Regions from separate parts of the Homo sapiens genome. Here regions 1, 2 and 3 are each linked to region 4. The links come from fine-mapping of genetic effects on gene expression. A gene starts in region 4. Each other region holds a variant in brackets. All regions are shown on one strand. Distances are between the middles of the regions.

Region 1 (4,000 bases), 55 kb before region 4:
TGTTCTCCACCTGCATTCCACTGTCTAGTCCAAACCTAATCCCTCCACTGACCTGCCTAACTGGTAGCCTCCCAAGTTGTCTCTCCGTACCTACTCTTGCTCTCCCAACCATTTTCCTAACAGTAGCCACAGTAATCTTTTCCAAATGAAAATTAGGGCAGGTCTCATTGTTCCCTCAATGATTTCTCAATGCTCTCTGGATAATGATATAGTCTGTTGTAGCATGATTAACTTATTTTAGGGTTCTGTGATCCAGACCAATAAAAGGTAATGGAACTGAAAAGGGTCTAATCACTACCTGATACATGTACTGTGTTTACCTTGAACTGCAGCATTTCATTCTTATGGTAAGTGACATCCAGGCGAAGGGGGTTCACGGGTGTGGAGGGGAAGGCATTGGCATAAACGGAAGACTTTAAGGAGATGTCAGCTGTGGCCCCATGGGAATTATACTGAACATCACTGACAGAGTATAGGTCGTTGACAAAATAGCAAAAAGGGACTCCAGAAGAATTGGATGCCTGAAAAGTAAGGCCAAAGTCATAGATCAGCACAGCATGTGGTCTTAAAGTTCTCTAACCTAAACAGGGTTAGTAAAGTCATTTTATATGACGATAAAACTAGCCCATCACTTATCACTTGGCAATAACATAAATTTCAATTCCTTGTCTCCAAGCAAAATATTCATCTTAAGAAGTTTCGCACATGTCCCCACCTACTTGTCACATCTAGATCCTGTCCCTTAGGAAGTTCTTTCTATGGATTTTAAGTAGTTATGTAAGTACCACTGCTATGCTTAAGAAACTACAGATTAGGTGTGGAGATTCTCATGCACACAAACCCCATCAGCATGGTTACCTCCCAGATACAGCCACGGGCAGTGCAGTTTTCGGCAGAAGCACCATTCTCATCAGGGTAACAGTCTATTTTTTCTTCATCCCTTATCTTTATGCTCCATTCCACTGTGTATGCTTCTCCCAGGAGAAGATCAATATCTGTGATAATGGCAACCTGTAGGAATGTGGAAATCATAAGGAAATTCATCTTTAGGAGACAGGCTTTGCAAGACCTGAGGTTTTTTTTTCGATAAAAAAAAAATAGAAATTAGACCAGACTTTCAAACATCCAAGCAACATATGACTTTAGCTTATAAGAAGAGAACTGCACATTGGGAGAATCTATTTAGCAGCAACAGGTCAAATGTCTCCCCTCTAGCACAATCTTGTACTTAGCATAATGAAAACAGTTAGGTCAAATAAAACCTGTTGTGATCACCCCTTATTCTTTTCTACCCTGACTCCTCTTAGCTCGCTGTGAGATGACACATGATGTCATCCTAAAGTGAGTTGATCCTCTTGCTCTCCAATGCCCAAACCAGTATCACCCATTGGCGTGGAGTGGTAGAAAGAGCACAGCAATAAGAATCATATGACCTGGTTATCATGCCCACATTTCTGTAGAATGTTGGACAAATGATTTCTTTTTTTAATTTTTAATTTTAATGGGTATATAGTAGGTATGCATATTTATGGGTTATATGAAATATGTTGATTCAGGCATACAGGGCATAATAATCACATCAGGGTAAGTCAGGTATTCTGTTTCATTTCTTTGGGTTTCAATTTTAGCAACGGCAAATTTGAAAAGTTGAAA[A/T]AAACATTATATTTCTTTCTATTTCTAACATCCCAGCATGTTCATTTCTCTAAGCCCAAAGACTCCAATTCTGAAACCTTCCTTGAATACCATTAGTTCAAATATTTAATATTTTTCTATATAGTTTTCTTATCTTGACACTTCTTTAAACAACACTTCCCAAGTTAAAGTTCTCACTTGTCTGGAGTACAAAAATCACATTCTAAAGATTATCATCCTTCTCCTAGTCTCCTCCCAATCTAAACCATCTTGTACTTCCCTGTTCTACTAGTCCCCAGCCCCCACTCCCACTCCCAACAATGCTCACACACAGTAGCACAGCCTTCATTCAAGGATCAATATGAGACTGCTTGAGAATTAAATCAAGTTGGTAACTAAGACCTCCAAAACCTGACCACAAGTTTCCTATCCAAACTGGCCTTTTTCAAATACCAATTCTTATTTGTGCTAGTCATACAAAATTCACAGTCTAATAATGTCAGGCTATTCCCCACTTTCCAACTTTGCTGTTCCTGGGTCTCATCATAATTATTCTATTTTTGGGAAAAGCAAGTGAAACCAGCTAGAAAGACGGGAACACTGATAGGCAGAGAAGGGAATAAGAAGAAAAATACCCAACTCATTCTAGCTCTGGCCACCTCATTTTTTTCCCCAGCCCTCTCACTTCCCCAAAACAGGCCTCAAAGGTGCCCTGGTCCTTCAGGGACCCATGCAAACTTGGCAAGAAGGAACATCACGATGCTATGGAGAATTCTCAATGTACCATCTCAACAAAATGGGTTTTTACCTTCAGGTTAGAATCATAAGTGACTGTAGGAGAAGTCTGACTTGGGACACCATTGTGTTTCACTGTAACATTGCTAGGTTCCTCCGTCCCAAGAATTTTAATCTCATTAAATGCTAAATTATTGGGGTCCTTGTAGGTTGATTGTGAAATATTCACCTCCAAGCGGTTCTGCAAAACAATTAAGTCCAAGTATGCATAAAGGTATATGAGTATACACAGATTCTCAAGTCACTCAAATATTCCATTCCAGACCGGATACCCCCCACTGCCATAAATGCCTCTCTGCTTTCTCTACTAGTGTGTGCTGAAGAAGTACAACATTATTTGGATAATCCTCTAATTTAAAACGATCATAAAAACACACAGGCATTTAAAAACTGTGTTCAGAAACACTAGCTGCTATATTAATGCCTCCTTTTGAAAACATCGATGAAATCATAAATAGAAATGTACTCACCTATAGCCAATAATGCATATAAAGTTACAAATATAATCACACATATACAATATACACAAGCACAGATGTGCTAATGGTCAGTCCAAAGCCCACACCTAAGATTCATAAAAATATGCTACTCACTTGAGTGACAGAAAACTCACATAAAAGATACACTTTATTGGCCACAGTATCTGAAAGTGAGAGAAAGACAAGTCAGATTCTGGCCTGCCCACCTCAGAAGAACAGATTTCACCCTACCACTCCTTTCAGCTATGCCTTGAGGTCACACATAGCAGTTTTCCTTTTCCTTATGGATGAATAATTTTCAATTGTATATGTGTATCACATTTCTTTATTCATTCATTCATCAATGTATAATTAGATTGTTTCTATATCTTGGTTGTTGCACATAATGCTGTAATGAACGTGGGAGTGACTGTATCTCTTAAAGATACTGGTTTCATGTCCTCTGGATATACACCCAGAAGTGGGATTTCATGGGATTGTATGGAAGTTCTGTTAATTTTTTGAGGAACATGCATACTATTTTCCATAACGGTTGTAACAATTTACATTCTCACCAACAGTCTACAAAAATTCCATTTTCTCCACATCCTCGCCAGCACTTATCTCTTATCTTTTTTATTATTTCCATGCTAACAGGTGTGAGGTGGTAGCTCACTGTAATTTTTTATTTGCATACCTGTGTCACTTACTGATGTTGAGCATCTTTTCACATGCCAGTTAGCCACTTGTATGTCTTCCTTGGAAAAACATCTGTTCAGGTCCTTCACCCACTTTTTAATTGGGTCATTTGATCTTTTGCTACTGAGTTGCATGAGTTCCTTATTTTTTTATATTAATCTCTTCTGAGATACATGGTTTGCAAACATTTTTATCCATTCTGTAGTTTGCCTTTTCACTTTGTTGATTATTTATTTTCCTGTGCAGAAGCCTTTTAGTTTGATGTAGTCATGCTTGTTTATTATTTGCTATTTTGCCTTTGCTTTTGGTATCATATCCAAAAAGTCATTGCCAAGACTAATGTCAAGGAGGTTGTTTCCTGTGTTCTTCTAGGAGCTTTACAATTTCAACCCTTACATTTAAGTTTTTAATTTTAC
Region 2 (4,842 bases), 110 kb before region 4:
ATAAAAGTTGAAAAAAATTTAAAAACGGAGGATCTTTCTTTAAAAAGAAAAAGAAAACCTCTTACTTAAATCAACTTAAGGACTTTTTCTCCAAATTCTGCCTCCCCAAAGAAACAGCTAGAAATTCTCTTTCACAGCCTTTCTTTCATCCAAGGTAGAGGCAAGTGGCTGGAGCTTTGTGAATGAGATATTCCTGTGAGTGACTTACATCCAGAAGAAGGTGTAGATAAGGAGGTACCATGTAAAATCCAGGATGTTGGAAGCATAGCTCGTTTCAGAGGCAGCAGGGACAAGAGACCTAGTGGCATCCTATGCTCAGTATTTGGGGTTGCGAGCTGCCAGATATGTGCTCAGGGCAGTGGCAGTAGAAACCGCTACAGGGTAACCTGGGGCTTGTCCCTAGCCACATGGCCTACAAACCTGACTCTCTAGTCCTACCGGAGTTTCAATGAGTCACCAATATCTTTTTAAAATTTTTCTTAAGCCAGCTAAAGTGGATTTTTAAATTGACATATAATTTCCAAACCATAAGATTCACTCTTTTAAAGTATACAATTCAGTGTTTTTAAAAATATATTTACAAAATTCTGAAACTATCACCACTATCTAATTCCAGAACATTTTTGCCACCCCCAAAAATAATTAGTGGTCACTCCCCATTCCCATCTCCCCCTGTTTCTGCAGCCACTAACCTACTTTCTGTCCTTATGGATTTGCCTATTGTGAACATTTCATATAAATGCAGTAATACAATATGTGGCCATCTGTGTCTGGCTTCTTTTACTTGGCATGATATTTTCAAAGTTCATCCACACCATTTCAGGTATCAGTGTCTGTTCCTTTCCATGTCTGGATAGTATCCACTGCGTGGATAGACCACATTTTGTTTAGGCATGTATCAGCTGATATACATCTAGGTTGTTGATACTTTTTGCCTGTTATGAACGATGCTGCTATGAGCTGACACGTTTTAAAATTCTGCCTGGAATATACCTAGGAGTGGAATCATGGGTCATGTGACAAGTCTTTAACTTTTTGAAGAACTGCAAAACTGCTTTCTAATGTGGCAGCACCATTTTACACCCCCATTCCTGCCAGTAATATATGAGGGTACAGAGAGCTCTTTTGGTGGCACCTAAGAACTGTAAATAACAGTGTTCACAGTAGTGAATCTTTTGTGTTTGCTTCAAATGCTCAGTATGTGGAAAAGCACACATACACACACACACGGAGAGAGAGAGAGAAAGTGAGAGAGAGAGAGGGAGGGACAGAGAGAGAGAGAGAGAAAGAGAGACTCGGTTTCTGCATTTATGAACTGCTGGAATGACATATTCAGCTTTTCATTTGCCCCAGTACAAGGTGGCCTTTGTTAGAGGGGAAATGTACCAAGATCTCATTTCAAATTGGGAAGACATCCTGGCAAAAGGTCAAGAAGGGAGATTTTATTGTTACATAAGATCTATTTTTTGTGTGATATTTTACCTTTAACTCCCCACATGCCATGCACATTTGTGACTTCATTTATGTTAATAGTGGTAACCAACAGGCCCAGCTAATCTATAACCTGTTTCCTAAAGTGCAGAAAATAGCTACCTTCACCTTCCATTCTTGCTAACTAGTAACTGGAAGATATTGAATCACCATACTGGTGTTGACCAATGAGAAAATAACAGAGCCACTTTGAAGGGTAGAGACAGGCACGTGACCCGACATCTTCCAGTTGTCTATCGGTAACAAGGCACGGCAAAGTTAGCTATTGGCGGAACTCAAACAGTTGTCACAGCAAGCTGCTGGTTGGAATCATCAGATCAGAAACTAGTAATATGAGTCACCCTTAACTTCCAGAACACCTTTCTCCAAGGCCAGATGCAAAACTCTCAGTGACTCTGCCGCTATGACAAGAACAAAGAAATATTGATGAGATCTTGAAGACATCTGCCACGGCCAACATAACCTTATCTTTGCAGGTATATATGACATTTAATGTTATAACATTAATAAGAAAGGAATAGATGTCTTCCTATTTAAGTGAAAGAGTTTGAGAGTGTTTTTTTTTTTATTTTGGCACACCTATGAAGAAAGCAAAATTATGTGATCTAAAAAACAGAGCATATGTGGAAAAGGAAGGCCCCCAGCCTCTTCCTGAATAGCTGGCCAGGAGTTGTAAGCATAGGTCCATGTTGTAGGGGCTGCTCTGGGATGGCCACAAATGGATATGGTTCCATGAGAGGTGGTTCTCAGACTGTGATCTGAGGAACAACCTCTGGGGGTATTATTGAGCGAAAGGGCTCACTCTTCGATGCGCTAGAAGCCAATACTCTGATAAAGGGTTTCGAAGAAAAGCTTTTATTGCAAAGTCGACTCACAGGACACAGGAGTCCAGCTCAAACCTGTCTTCCTGTGCTGGCTTTAAGGAAGTATTTTTATCAGAAAAGACTTAGGGGGTGGATTCTGGGATTAGCAGGTGATTGGTAAAAGAAAGAGGAAATCTAGAAAGTCCTCAGGCATGCACAGTTATCTCTTCATGCCTCATCATGGGTCTCATGTGCAAATTTGGGAGGGAGTTAGTAAGAACCTGTGGTGGAAATTCAGGCTGTGACGTCAGCAAGCTCTTTCTGCGTTAACTCCGGTAAGCCATATTGGTTCCAACAGATAATCTCTTTTTCACACATTTCTGGCTGAAATTTAGCATTTTGTTAGGTTATGAATGTAGACAACAAAACACAGTAGTTTTCATAGCACATGAGTTTGTCAATAATGCAATCACAGATCTTTCCATATTACATTATGAAATTGTAGTGGATATCTCAAAATATTGTTGATGTTGATCATTACATTGAAATTATAGCATTGTTACTTCCACTGTTGGATCTTTTCATTTAATTTGATAATGAAAAAAACACATCTCATGGGTTACTATATCATCTTTAATATTTGGATAAGTGTATCGTAATATGATAAGTTTTCTTTGAAATAGCATGCATTTTGCTTGATGCATTTAAAAACAATGTTGTGAGGAAGAATTCCGTAGGTTTCACTAGGCTGTCAGTGGGGTCCCTGACACTTCGTGTGCTCCAAAACCCCACTGGCCTCACTAGGGCCTTAGCCATCAGAATTATATAGTCAGAATGCCTCTCCTTAAGCATT[C/T]TGTGGCAGCCAGAGCCAAATTCCACCAACATATCCTTGATGGTAACATTAAATATTTTTTAAATATCAAGTAAATAACGTTTTCATCTTTGTGGCCTTCCTGAGTTTGTTAGAGGAAAGCTGACAAGTTTCCCACCTTTTTGATCAAAGGATTCCCATGGCTGCTTTTCCATATTTCACCAGTTTCCTAGTTAGCTCAGGCCCTCATCCAAATGCCCCGTATTGTGATAATTAGATGATTTAACAATATTGTTTGTCTCTAGCCTTATGCAGGTGCTGACACATGAGTGTGCAGGGAGAATGAATGGCTTCCTGGTTATAAGAAAAGAAGAAAACACAGAGAAGTAGGTTCATTCATTCCACACACATTCATTTTCAACTCATTTTCAGGTAACATCAAAAGTTAATATTCCTGTTGAACATTAATATATAATTTCCTTATCTCACATTTTAACCCTATAGAATTTTAAGCAAGAAGGTTGCAACTCCTATTTTTACTGGAGTTGGTATTTTCCTAAATATAGCAACTGCTATGATGATTAAAATAGTAATCAATAGACCCTTCCACAAACCCACATCTTATAAAAGACTCCTTGCAGAGATGTAAGAAAAAGGATAATTATAAAGGTTATCATCCTATTGGTGGATTTGGCTGTAGGTTCTGTGATGCCGAAGAGAACCAGAAAGACAAATTCATAAGAGTTTGCTAAACAAGAACCTTAACCCCAAACAGAGATTACTCATGGTCAAAATAGCACAAAATTCAAAATCACTTGCAAATTCACTTGTTTTATTTTTATCTGGCATATAAATTGCATATTTTTATGTGAAATGTGGTTGTATACATTAGAAATAAGATTTACACATTTCAAAGCACACTACTGCAAAAATAAATTATTTTTAACCTCCAAACTCTCTTTTGAGCTTTGCCTGCTCAGATCTCAATCTCACCAGTAGCCCTTTATGCTAAGGATTTCTCAAGACCCTCTTCTTCAAGTGAGTTGACTCTTCCTTTTTCCTCCCCATGAGGCTGCTGACAATTTTACATTATGTTCTTACTTAGGATCACTTTTACTATCATCTTCTGTTTCATCTGATCTTTCCTTGTGTTTGCCTTTTCTTTGCTTATCATGCTCCCCCCACCTATAACCAATTAGGTATATTATTCCTCCCACCGCCTATAACCAACTAGCAGATGTTCTTTCTGGATACTTTCTTGAGATGCTGATTAGCTTCAAGACCTGGAACTGTCACAGAAAGCTTTCTCTTGTGTATTTAACAAAAGAATGGGGTCCATTCTATGATTACAAACGTGGACATACACACACTTCATCATGGACCCAGTTCATCTTCAGTAAATGTCATATGATGAACAGTCACTACCATACTAACCACACAGAGACATTAAGGTAATGCATAGATTTTCCACACCTCCCTAACTGCCTATCCCACAGGGCTAAGGTTTAACCTTTAGGGTTCACACAAAAAACATATAACAAAATTAACAGAAATATTTCACCAATAGTGGGTATGAACAAATTAGCAACACACAATAATTTTTATGAGTATGAAGTATAAGTAGTTTCAAAGTCATTCATAGTTAGTTAGAATCTTGCTGTAAAAATTCACAGAGTGCTTATCCACGTCAATGAAGTAAAATTATGTAGGCTGATGTTTCTGTCAGTCACATCGATG
Region 3 (4,000 bases), 69 kb before region 4:
GTTCTCTCCTGTAAAATATTACCTCATTTCTTAACCATGGCACATTTTAAATGTGAGGATGGCCCTCGTCCCTCAATTCTCTTGCTGAAATCCTTCTTTTGTGACCTGGGTCCATATAACAAAACTGCTACATAAGATAGGCCTTTGCACAACCAAATTAGAATGAAACTATTCTATGCTGTACTGCATCATTTCAATTTTCGTCATTCAATAAATACCCTTTTTTTATGACCTACGGTATGTATAACACTGTGCTAAAGACAGTAATCAGGTATACTTTGTGTCTGAAGAGCTCATGTCAAAAGGCCATCATGTCTTTAATTTGGAAGCGTTGTGTATATCAACTGCTACCACATAGAATGCAATAAGTCATCCATTAGTCATCGGGATCCCTGCTGGACACTCACTCATGGAGCAGAGGCCGCACAACAGTGACGCCCTCCGTGTGGGCCTTTTGCATCAAGGTATACAGATATGGCAACAGGGTGTATCTGGTCTGCAGGACATTTCTGGAAATATTCACAAAAGCAGCATCCCAGGACACAGGGTCTTGTCTCTAAAGGAGAAAGAGAACAGTGTTGGGAGCTCGCCCTGGAATTTCTAGGGGATTTAAGAAGGTCACTAAAAGCATACTCCAATTGAAGATCACTCACAGCTAAACAAAAGAAAACTATACATGAGGCCCAGAGAATATTCTTAATAGACCGGAAAGAGTCACCAAAGCTCTCCTAAGACAGCTGATAAAATTTCACTGTAAGACATTCTTTTTGGAACATTTGGTAAAATTCTGCCTGAAATACAGGAAAAAAATAATAATCTAAAGCACAATGAGGAATATGGTTCATTGAGACACCAGGTCTTCACAATTTTTAAGGGTGCAGTGGCTCACGCCTGTAATCCCAGCACTTTTGGAGGCTGTCGAGTGGATCGCTTGAGCCCAGGAGTTCGAGACCATCCTGTGAAATATGGCAAGATCCCATTTCTACAAAAAATCAAAAATTAGGTAGCCACGCTGGGATGTGCCTTTATCCCAGCTATTCAGAAGGCTGACGTGGGACAATCGCTTTAGCCCCAGAGGTGGAGGCTGCAGTCAGCCATGATTGGGACACTGCACGATTCAGCCTGGCCAACAGAGTAAATCCCTGTTTCAAAAAAAAAAACAAAACAAAACAAAACAAAAAAAAACACCTTTTTTTAAAGATATCCCAGGAAATAGAGACTGCATTACTTTTAGCACAGAAATGGAGACTGTCTTTCAAGTGACATAAAACAGTGGAGGTAGAAGCCACTGTCCTACCCTGGTCCCAATGGTATTGTGGTTTCTTGAGAAGGGGTAAAAGGCCCCCAGCTGCATCCAGCGAACACACATCTCGTACTCAGCGTCTTGAAAGAACCCACAGATATCTGCTCCCGTCTGAAACAAGAGGAAATAAAAGGAGCCTGCTGATGATTTCTGAAAGATGTCCCCACCTTCTTGGTGCTTAGGAGGATCCCAAGGACACTCACATAGGATATGCC[A/G]AAGAGGCTGAACTCCATCATGCCTGCAACGAGAAGCACAGCTGTGTCACACCAGGCTCTCATGATCTGCCTCCTCACCTCTTCCCTAAGGATCCCAACTCCCTGCCCTGTCGGCAAAGGCCCTGGGGAAGGACCCACGCACCAATGATAGACTTCTTCAGCTGATCCCATGCGGCCGTGTTGTCTCCCAGCCAATGTCCTGCCCAGCGGCCAGAAGAGGGAAATGTGGAGCGGGTGATGACGACCCCTCGCTGTCCCGTCACCTCCTGCACGGCTCTGCTTGGAAGGGAACAGGAGGTGAACTGAGGCAACAGCCAGGGAGTAAAGGCCATAGAGCTTCTGCTCCCAGAGCCCTTGAGCCTAGTCAATGTTTGCTGCGTGACTGGAGGGAACATGGGACTCTGAGCTGTAATAGGAGTTCCACTGATCCCAGATGATGGAGATAATGAGTCACGTGTTCTCACAGTGCTTTACAAAGAACTTCACTGTAGCAGCCTCACTGGAGTACTCCCAAAATACTAAGGAATTACTATGTCTTGCTAATGGTTTCCTCAATACTTAGTTTTCTATATTTGAGAAGGAACACAGTGAAGGTTATAAGATCCTCTTAGAAGAATTCATACTATTCATTGAGCTTGCAAAGCAGGACTGTGCTAATTCAGTACAATACCAGTTACCCTCCACCAAGAATGGCCAAAAATACAAACATCTCCAAAGATGATTCACTTTGAAATGAACGGGAGAGATGCCCAGTCCTCTGTGTTCCCTTCACCTCCTGTAACTAAAGCTATTGTTCCACTGGCTGCCCTGTGTGACCATTATGGTGTCTCCATGTGAGTCTTTCCCACTAGGATCATTAAGTTTTTCACTGGTGGGACCATGCCTTATTTAAATCTGTCCTCCTACTTTTAATCACAGGGCCTGGCTCCATGTCAATGAGCATTTGTTTAATAAATAAGAATCATTACAGAGTTATGAGAATCTTCTTAATCCTTAGAAATGGAATGAAAGGAAAACTAGGGTAGCTATGTCAGTCACTGGCAATCGCTATAGGTTGTGACAGCTGGAGAAGGGAGACGGAGACTCACTCGTATGTGGGTCTGGTCTGGGACCACCCATACAGGTTGTGCACGTTGTAGTGCTGCACCAGGGAGCCGTCTGGGAGGATCTGCTGACTCTCCATACAAAGGGTCTTGCTGCTCAGGCCCCTGTCCCTGGACTCCAAATCTGAGGAGGAAGAACTGGCGAGGTGAAACCCAGCCCTGATTCTGTTTCTCCCTGACTTCTCTTCAAGGGACTGGGCCCTGGATCTTAAGACTAACTTCAGTCCTGCCTGTGTCGCTCTCCATCTCCCCAGAGACATGAGCACAGCGCCCCCAGCTCTGAGCTGCATTGGCGCCTGCTGTGTTTCCAACATCAAGTTCACTGAAGGAAGCAGAGGTGTCAGGAAGAACGTACAGCTGTCAAACACTACATGACGGGCTCTGATTTAGGCTTTTGACTTCCAATTATTTCCATAATTCTATGAAGAAGATCTCATTATCCGTCTTTTACAATTTAGCAAACTGAGATTTGGAAATATCACATAATCTGTGAAAAGTCACAAAACTCCTAGAGAGAACAATTTCTGGAGCCAAGATATGAACCCAAGTGTAACTCCAAAGTCCATCAGCTCCATGATAAGGGGAAGCCAGTAATTTCCACTCACTGATGACACAAGAAATTCCTGTGATGGAATTCACACAAGCCTAAAAACTAAGAAACTCAGCTGTGAGAACCCTTTGTGCCATGAGCTCTGCTAAGTGCTTTCTGGACAAATTTCAAGAAATTTGCTCAATGAGTCTAGTCACTTGCCCATGCCCGGCTGGGTAAAGCACGTGCAGAGCTTTTGTCTCTGGTCCCCAGTAAACCACAGCAGCCATGAGGATGTGCCCTCAGCTGTGGGGCTGCCCCTGGCCTCGGGCTCCTCCAGTGTAATCCTTCCAGTCATGGCTCTGCCAGTCAAGGAGGCCAAGGCTTCTTACGTGGCATGTAGGGAGGGTGGTTCAGAGAGGCGTCCCTGCAGCCTGGAGAAACTGCCCCATTCACGAAGCTTGATGGTTCATTCATATCCTAGAAATGCCAAACACAGACATACCTCACTTTTTAAGATAATTACGTCCTGCCAATTCTGAGCCAAGGAAGTAGTGAATAAATTGTTCAACATCCAGTAATCTCTGTAGATGCCAGCCCTGGGAGCTTCATCAAATCCTGGTGAGAACTGGCTAGAAAGATTAATTCACTCCTACAGAACGACTGGCTAGAGGGGTAAAAAAATAGATCTCTTTCAGGGTGGCTGTGAGGCAATCAAATTTCCAGAAATTCCTAGTAAATTGCCTCCCAGGTTTTTTTTTTGGTTTTGTTTTTCATTCTTTGAGATGGAGTTATGCTTGTTTCCCAGGCTGGAGTGCAATGGTGCGATCCTGGCTCACTGCAAACTCTG
Region 4 (6,113 bases):
ACTGATGTGCCTCATTTGCCAAGATCATTCATCATTATCTAAACTACATCTCTGGAAGAAAGAAATCTGCTTGCAGTTTATTTATTCATTCATGAATTATTTATTAAGTTCCTACAATGTGCCAAGCATTCTTTCAAAAACTGACTACACAACAATGAACAAAACAGATAAAAATCCCTGCCGTCATGAGACTTATGTTCCCATGAATAGAAAAAAGAGACAATAAACAAAATAAATAAATATACACTGGGTTATACTGTGTAAGTATATGGAGAAAAAGTGGGGGGTAAATGAGGAATGTTGGGGTAAGGGTGGCAATTTTAATTAGGTTGGTCAGAAAATAATCTTACTGAAATATAAGAATTATTACTATATACATATGAACGCTTTTACACTGTTGGGAGTGTAAATTAGTTCAAGCATTGTGGAAGACAGCGTGGCAATTCCTTAAGGATCTAGAACTAGAAATACCATTTGACCCAGCAATCCCATTACAGGGTATGTACCCGAAGGATTATAAATCATTCTACTATAAAGACACACGCACACGTATGTTTACTGCAGCACTATTTACAATAGCAAAGACTTGGAACCAACCCAAATGCCCATCAATGATAGACTGAATAAACAAAATGTGGCACATATACACCATGAAATACTATGCAGTCATAAAAAAGGATGAGTTCATGTCCTTTGCAGGGACATGGATGAAACTGGAAGCCATCATTCTCAGCAAACTAACACAGGAACAGAAAACCAAACACTACATGTTTTCACTCATAAGTGGAAGTTGAACAATGAGAACACATGGACATGGGGAGGGGAACATCACACATTAGGGCCTGTCAGGGGATGGCGGGCTAGGGGAGGGAGAGAATTATGACAAATACCTAATGCATGTGGGGCTTAAAACCTAGATGATGGGTTGACAGGTGCAGCAAACCACCATGGCGCATGTATACCCATGTAACGAACCTGCACATTCTGCACATGTATTCCAGAACTTAAAGTAAAATTTAAAAAAAGAATTATTACTATATATACATTACGCAAAAGCAATAGAATTTTTTTCTTCTTGAATTATTTAGTATATGAATAATTGTCAAAGCTCATTGTCCTGGTACCATTATAGTTCTTTAGGCAAAGTAGACAAACCACATGGGGGCCCAAATTATTAAAATGGCTATCTAAATTAATTTGGAAAAACTGGATATTTGTCCTCTTTCCGGCATTATAGCCAGCGTTTGATGTGTATATGGAGGTCTAAGCCATTCTTTTAAAATCCTTTGCTAACACAAGACATGAGATCTAGTGGAAAAGAGGATTCATTGTGGATAGATAGACTAAGAACAACTTGCAAAGAGGACCCCAGTGAGCCATAGCTATTCATCAAAAATGCTGGGCGATATTAGTAGGTTGGGCCATCCTTTCCCAGCTGCTTGGTGAATGGGAAGGGATAAGGTAGCTAATGAATGGCTTTTTTCTTCCAAGTCTGGTCACACCCAAGGTGAGAGATTTAAGAGTCAGCTCTGACCCTAGCCAGCTGTATGACCTTGGAAAAATCCACTTAACCCCTCTGGGTCTCAGTTTCCCCATCTGAACTGCAAAAGGATCATCTCTAGGAGACAGCTAACTCCTCCTTGAGCCCAGCAACAGGGTGTGCAAAGGCTTATATTTCTCATCACATTCCACAGCTGCCACCTGAACAAATTTTAAATGGAAAATTTCTTTTCTAGTTCCATTCCATGCTTATAGAACAATTTTTATAGTAATTTTATTAGCTCATTAAAATGTATTTGTGAGGGAATGCCTGATAATAAAAAATAATCATTGGCATCTTGTGAGAGTGTGACTGAAATAGCAACAAGCTGTCTTAAATTTAGTGTCCCACTTCATTTGGTCCCTGGTAGCACAGGGACCTACCAGCACAACAAACCAAAGACCCCCTCCATCTCACCCCCTCTTTGCACACCTACAGACATACACTTACTGTCCCACACCAGGACACAGACTGTAGACAGTTTGGACATTGGGAGGTCTTCCTCGCCCAGCAAAGCCACTGATCAGATCCTGCATGAAGAACCTAGTGGTATCCTTTTTCAGGGAGACCCATGGGGATTAGTCTCAATTTCTCTCTCTTTCCCCAAGAGTAACTCTCCCTTCCCACCTCTGTAACCAGTCAGAAAAGAAATGCCTGCGTGTGTCTAGCTAGACTGGCAACTAGTAAGGATCCAACTTTTTTTAAGTTTTATTTTAAGTTTTATTTTAAGTTTATTTTAAGTATTTTATTTTAAGTTTTTAAGTTTAAGGGCCAACAACAATTTATCACCTTCTCCTCTTCCCACGAGCACTCCCATTCTACTCCACACATGACTGCCAGGACAGATACCCTACCTTTCTCTTTATGACCTCCTCCCACATTCCACAGGAAACCTCTCCTACCCACCAATGCACACCAACTCATAAATGCATCCCAATATTTTACACACATCCTCAGACTATCCCCTAAAATTATTCTGTATTTAATCAACAGAGGCACCAAACCCATAAGCATAGTGATATATTTCTCAATTTTCTGATTATAATTGGTTCTTCAGTTACATTTTCTCAATCACAACTCCAAATCCTTTCAGAGGGAAAATGCTCTAATCTCACTCCCAAATTCTAACTCCTTTTATTCATTTCTCTCACTTCATTTCCAGAATCTGAAAGAATTTCTGCCTGCTACCTCAACCTAAGTATTAAATAATTCATCACACCTCACACAGAAACACACACAAACACACAGGTTTCACTACAATCAGGCTTATAGATCCAGCCTTAGTTCAGAAAAATATACACACACTAAGAAAAAAAGATAAATGAGAATTTTGTTCCATGTGTATGCATGTGCATAATTTTTGATTTATTATTGGTGTTGTTTATCTTTGTGTTTAACAAATTAACAAGGGCTTTTTTTTTTTTTTTGAGACGGAGTATCGCTCTACGACCCAGGCTGGAGTGCAGTGGCGTGATCTCGGCTCACTGCAAGCTCTACCTCCCAGGTTCACGCCATTCTCCTGCCTTAGCCTCTCCGAGTAGCTGGGACTACAGGCGCCCGCCACCATGCCCGGCTAATTTTTTGTATTTTTTTAGTAGAGATGGGGTTTCACCATGGTCTCGATCTCCTGATCTCGTGATCCACCCGCCTCGGCCTCCCAAAGTGCTGGGATTACAAGTGTGAGCCACTGCACCCGGCCAACAAGGGCATTTTGACTAAAAGAGATCAACTCAAATTCACACACACTTGTAGACACACATCTGTAACCGTAAAAGAATACAAGGTTCACAAACATACCTCATTACCTCTTGCAGCCGCTCCCTCTCTGTCTGAAGGATGGCTTAGCAATAAAAGCAGAGGAGCACAGTCCACCAAAGCAACCAAAGATCTGGTAACTATTTACCGACCTATCAAGAAAATGTTAATGGCTTTCAAATGCAAATGAATGGCCAGCTTTTATTTCCAGGATCAGAATTTTTAGTTAATTAGTAATCGTGGTCTTGCTCTAAGAAGGACATCCTTAAGACTTTTGGAAGGAAAAGCCAGCTCCCATGACCCACTCCATCCCCTCCAGGCACTGAATGTTTAATCGGTGGTGAGGACACCCTGTATGTCTGGTAAGAGAACACAGACACAATTTGTAGATGATAAAGAGCAAAAAATAAATGACCCCAGTATTCCAAAAGAGCCCTGGTCTCTTGCACTGACTCCGAATCTCTCAGGAACTCACTGACGTTTAGTAGCACAATCTGATGATTGTGATGGAAGGAAGTTGTTTTAAAAATGTTTTAAAAATAGTTTTCTTCTTTCTTCTTTAAGGTGTCCTTAAGCTTGTTTGCAGTATGGAAATCCTTTAACAGTCTGGTGACTCTTGAACTGCCTTTGCAGAACTATAAATAAGAGAAATCTAACAAGACTGACTCCATCTTGCTTCTAACCTCCCAGGCTAAATTATGTTTTCTAGGGGATTTTTTTTTTTTTTGGTTGGCTTTTTGCTTATTCTAGTACAAAGGCCAAGAAACCTATGAGAGGGATTTAGTTTATAGTTAAACTTGGAGTCAAGGGAAAATGATCCCCCTCCTTGCCTGGAGCTTAAAGGCGCATTCATAAGGCAAGGTTGGAATTATGGTAGGGGCTTAGACTTTGCTAAAGAATAGGCATAAACAATGTCCTGCCATGGCTTAGTTTGTTTTTCTATAAGTTGCTTACTGCCCCAGTCACACAACCAGTGTCACAAAATTCATAACTTCCCCAACTACCAAAGATAACATCACTGTATTGGTCTGTTTTCACACTTCTATAAAGACATGCCTGAGACTGGGTAATTTATAAAGAAAAGAGGTTTCGTTGACTCAGTTCCGCAAGGGTGGGAAGGCCTCAGGAAACAATCATGGTGGAAGGGGAAGCAGGGACTTCTTAACATGGCGGCAGGCCAGAGAGAGTGAGCAAGAGCAGGGAAAACTGCTTTGCAAAACCATCAGATCTCATGAGAACTCACCCACTATCATGAGAACAGCATAGGGGGATCCGCCCCCATGATCCAATCACATCCCACCTGGTCCCTCCCTTGACACATGGGGATTATGGGGATTACAATTCAAGATAAGATTTGGGTTCTGACACAAAGCCTAACCATATCAATCACTATTGTGAAACCTAAATAACTGGTCTTTTAGATATTTGTTAGCATTTCAGTAGACCAACAGACACCACCTAGTCTTGAGGCCAACACACACACCCCTCCTGGGAACTGACTCAGTTGCACAAAGACAGTTTTAGGTGCTCCTGTGATTTCATTCCCTGCCAATCAATTATACAAGTTCCCCAGCCCCATGCCCACCAAAGTACCCTTTACAAACCTTAGCCTTTGAATCCTGAGGGAGAGGGGATTGAGAAGTTTTTGCCTGCTCTTGTTTGGCCAACACTGTGATTATTCAACTCTTTATTTACTGCAATGCCTGCTGTTCTCATTGATCTTTTTGGAGGGCAGTGGGCAAGAAGAACTTATGGAGCTGAGACATGCTTATAAACCCCTCTTAGAATTAATTCTTAGGCCAGGTGCAGTGGCTCACGCCTGTAATCCCAGCACTTTGGGAGGCTGAGGTGGACAGATCACCTGAGGCCAGGAGTTCAAGACCAGCCTGGCCAACATGGTGAAACCGCGTCTCTACTAAAAGTACGAAAATTAGCCGGGCATGGCGGTGCGTGCCTGTAATCCCAGCTACTCATGAGGCTGCGGCAAGAGAATCACTTGAACCCAGGAGGCGGAGGTTGTAGTGAGCTGAGATACAAAGAAAATCAATTACATTGAAACACAGTTACTATAATATTTTTTAAATTATAGTTTGTGCCTCTTTAATGACATACTAACAATAAAGCGATATGTCTAATAGCGATTGCAATTTCAAAAACATGATAAGCGTAAACAATATCTTGAGATTGTTTTAAATATATGATGTGAAAGTAACTGTGACCTCTCTTGAAACCAAATTCATAGGTACTACTAACACCACTGTAGTTTGCAGCCTAACTCTAAATTTCAATTAGAATTTAGCAAAGAAAAGATATGTAAATATTTTCCCCCTCCAAGTTCACAGGCTTTCAGAATTATATCTACAAACCCCAGGTTAAGAACTTTGCTCTGTTACTAAGTGGACCTTCCTCCAAGTGGGGCAGAGTTCCCCGCTCTGTGATACTCCAAGAGTTATCTGTGAACCTGTGGTTGCCAGCTTCCAGAAAAATAAGCACAGAAATTGAAGGTAAGTGTTGAGAGACTTGCATTACAATTTGACAGAATCATTTCATGTCATTGATCTTGATAATTAAAAAATGGAGCTTGTATCTGTATATGCTTTTTTAAAATTTATTTTTCAAGTAATTTAGTTTTAATTTTACAAAAGCCACAGTCTGTGATATATTGGACAATTTTAAAACAATTGCTGTTTTACCACACATAGTTTAAAAAGTCCTGCTCAGCTACTGCTATTTCTAGGCATTTGTCTTTATGGGCTAGTGAAAATTCAGAAAAAAATCTGGGCCAAGAGACCTAAATTTATAAACCATGTATATCATC

Which allele goes with the higher level. Positions count from the first base shown, and alleles are read on the strand shown. Sizes are in standard deviations (SD) of each study's normalised expression. Not every link is listed here.
With allele A in place of G in region 3, the expression in whole blood of the gene that starts at base 3,389 in region 4 is lower (small effect, 0.16 SD a copy in GTEx).

The links. PIP is the estimated chance that this variant, and not a neighbour inherited with it, causes the effect.
Region 1: its variant is fine-mapped to the expression of MGAM in whole blood (TOPMed, PIP above 0.99).
Region 2: its variant is fine-mapped to the expression of MGAM in whole blood (TOPMed, PIP above 0.99).
Region 3: its variant is fine-mapped to the expression of MGAM in whole blood (GTEx, PIP above 0.99). The same link has a PIP of 0.9 or more in monocytes.

The regions. Positions count from the first base shown.
Region 1 is chr7:142,049,305-142,053,304 of GRCh38, reverse strand. It overlaps MGAM (maltase-glucoamylase), which reads right to left. Exons shown (of 71, transcript NM_001365693.1): 23 at 3,021-3,070; 24 at 2,441-2,608; 25 at 859-1,011; 26 at 321-521. Among named protein-coding and RNA genes, the nearest start is that of MGAM, 55 kb to the right of the region's middle. The variant A/T (reference allele first, on the strand shown) is at 1,654.
Region 2 is chr7:142,105,822-142,110,663 of GRCh38, reverse strand. It overlaps MGAM (maltase-glucoamylase), which reads right to left. Exons shown (of 71, transcript NM_001365693.1): 71 at 3,917-4,842. The coding sequence ends at 4,773. Among named protein-coding and RNA genes, the nearest start is that of MGAM2, 3.5 kb to the left of the region's middle. The variant C/T (reference allele first, on the strand shown) is at 3,148.
Region 3 is chr7:142,063,129-142,067,128 of GRCh38, reverse strand. MGAM (maltase-glucoamylase) reads right to left here. Exons shown (of 71, transcript NM_001365693.1): 36 at 3,543-3,630; 37 at 2,607-2,745; 38 at 1,661-1,794; 39 at 1,507-1,541; 40 at 1,298-1,414; 41 at 408-556. Among named protein-coding and RNA genes, the nearest start is that of MGAM2, 47 kb to the left of the region's middle. The variant A/G (reference allele first, on the strand shown) is at 1,519.
Region 4 is chr7:141,993,155-141,999,267 of GRCh38, reverse strand. MGAM (maltase-glucoamylase) reads right to left here and starts at 3,389. Exons shown (of 71, transcript NM_001365693.1): 1 at 3,338-3,389. RefSeq lists an enhancer at 3,190-3,691.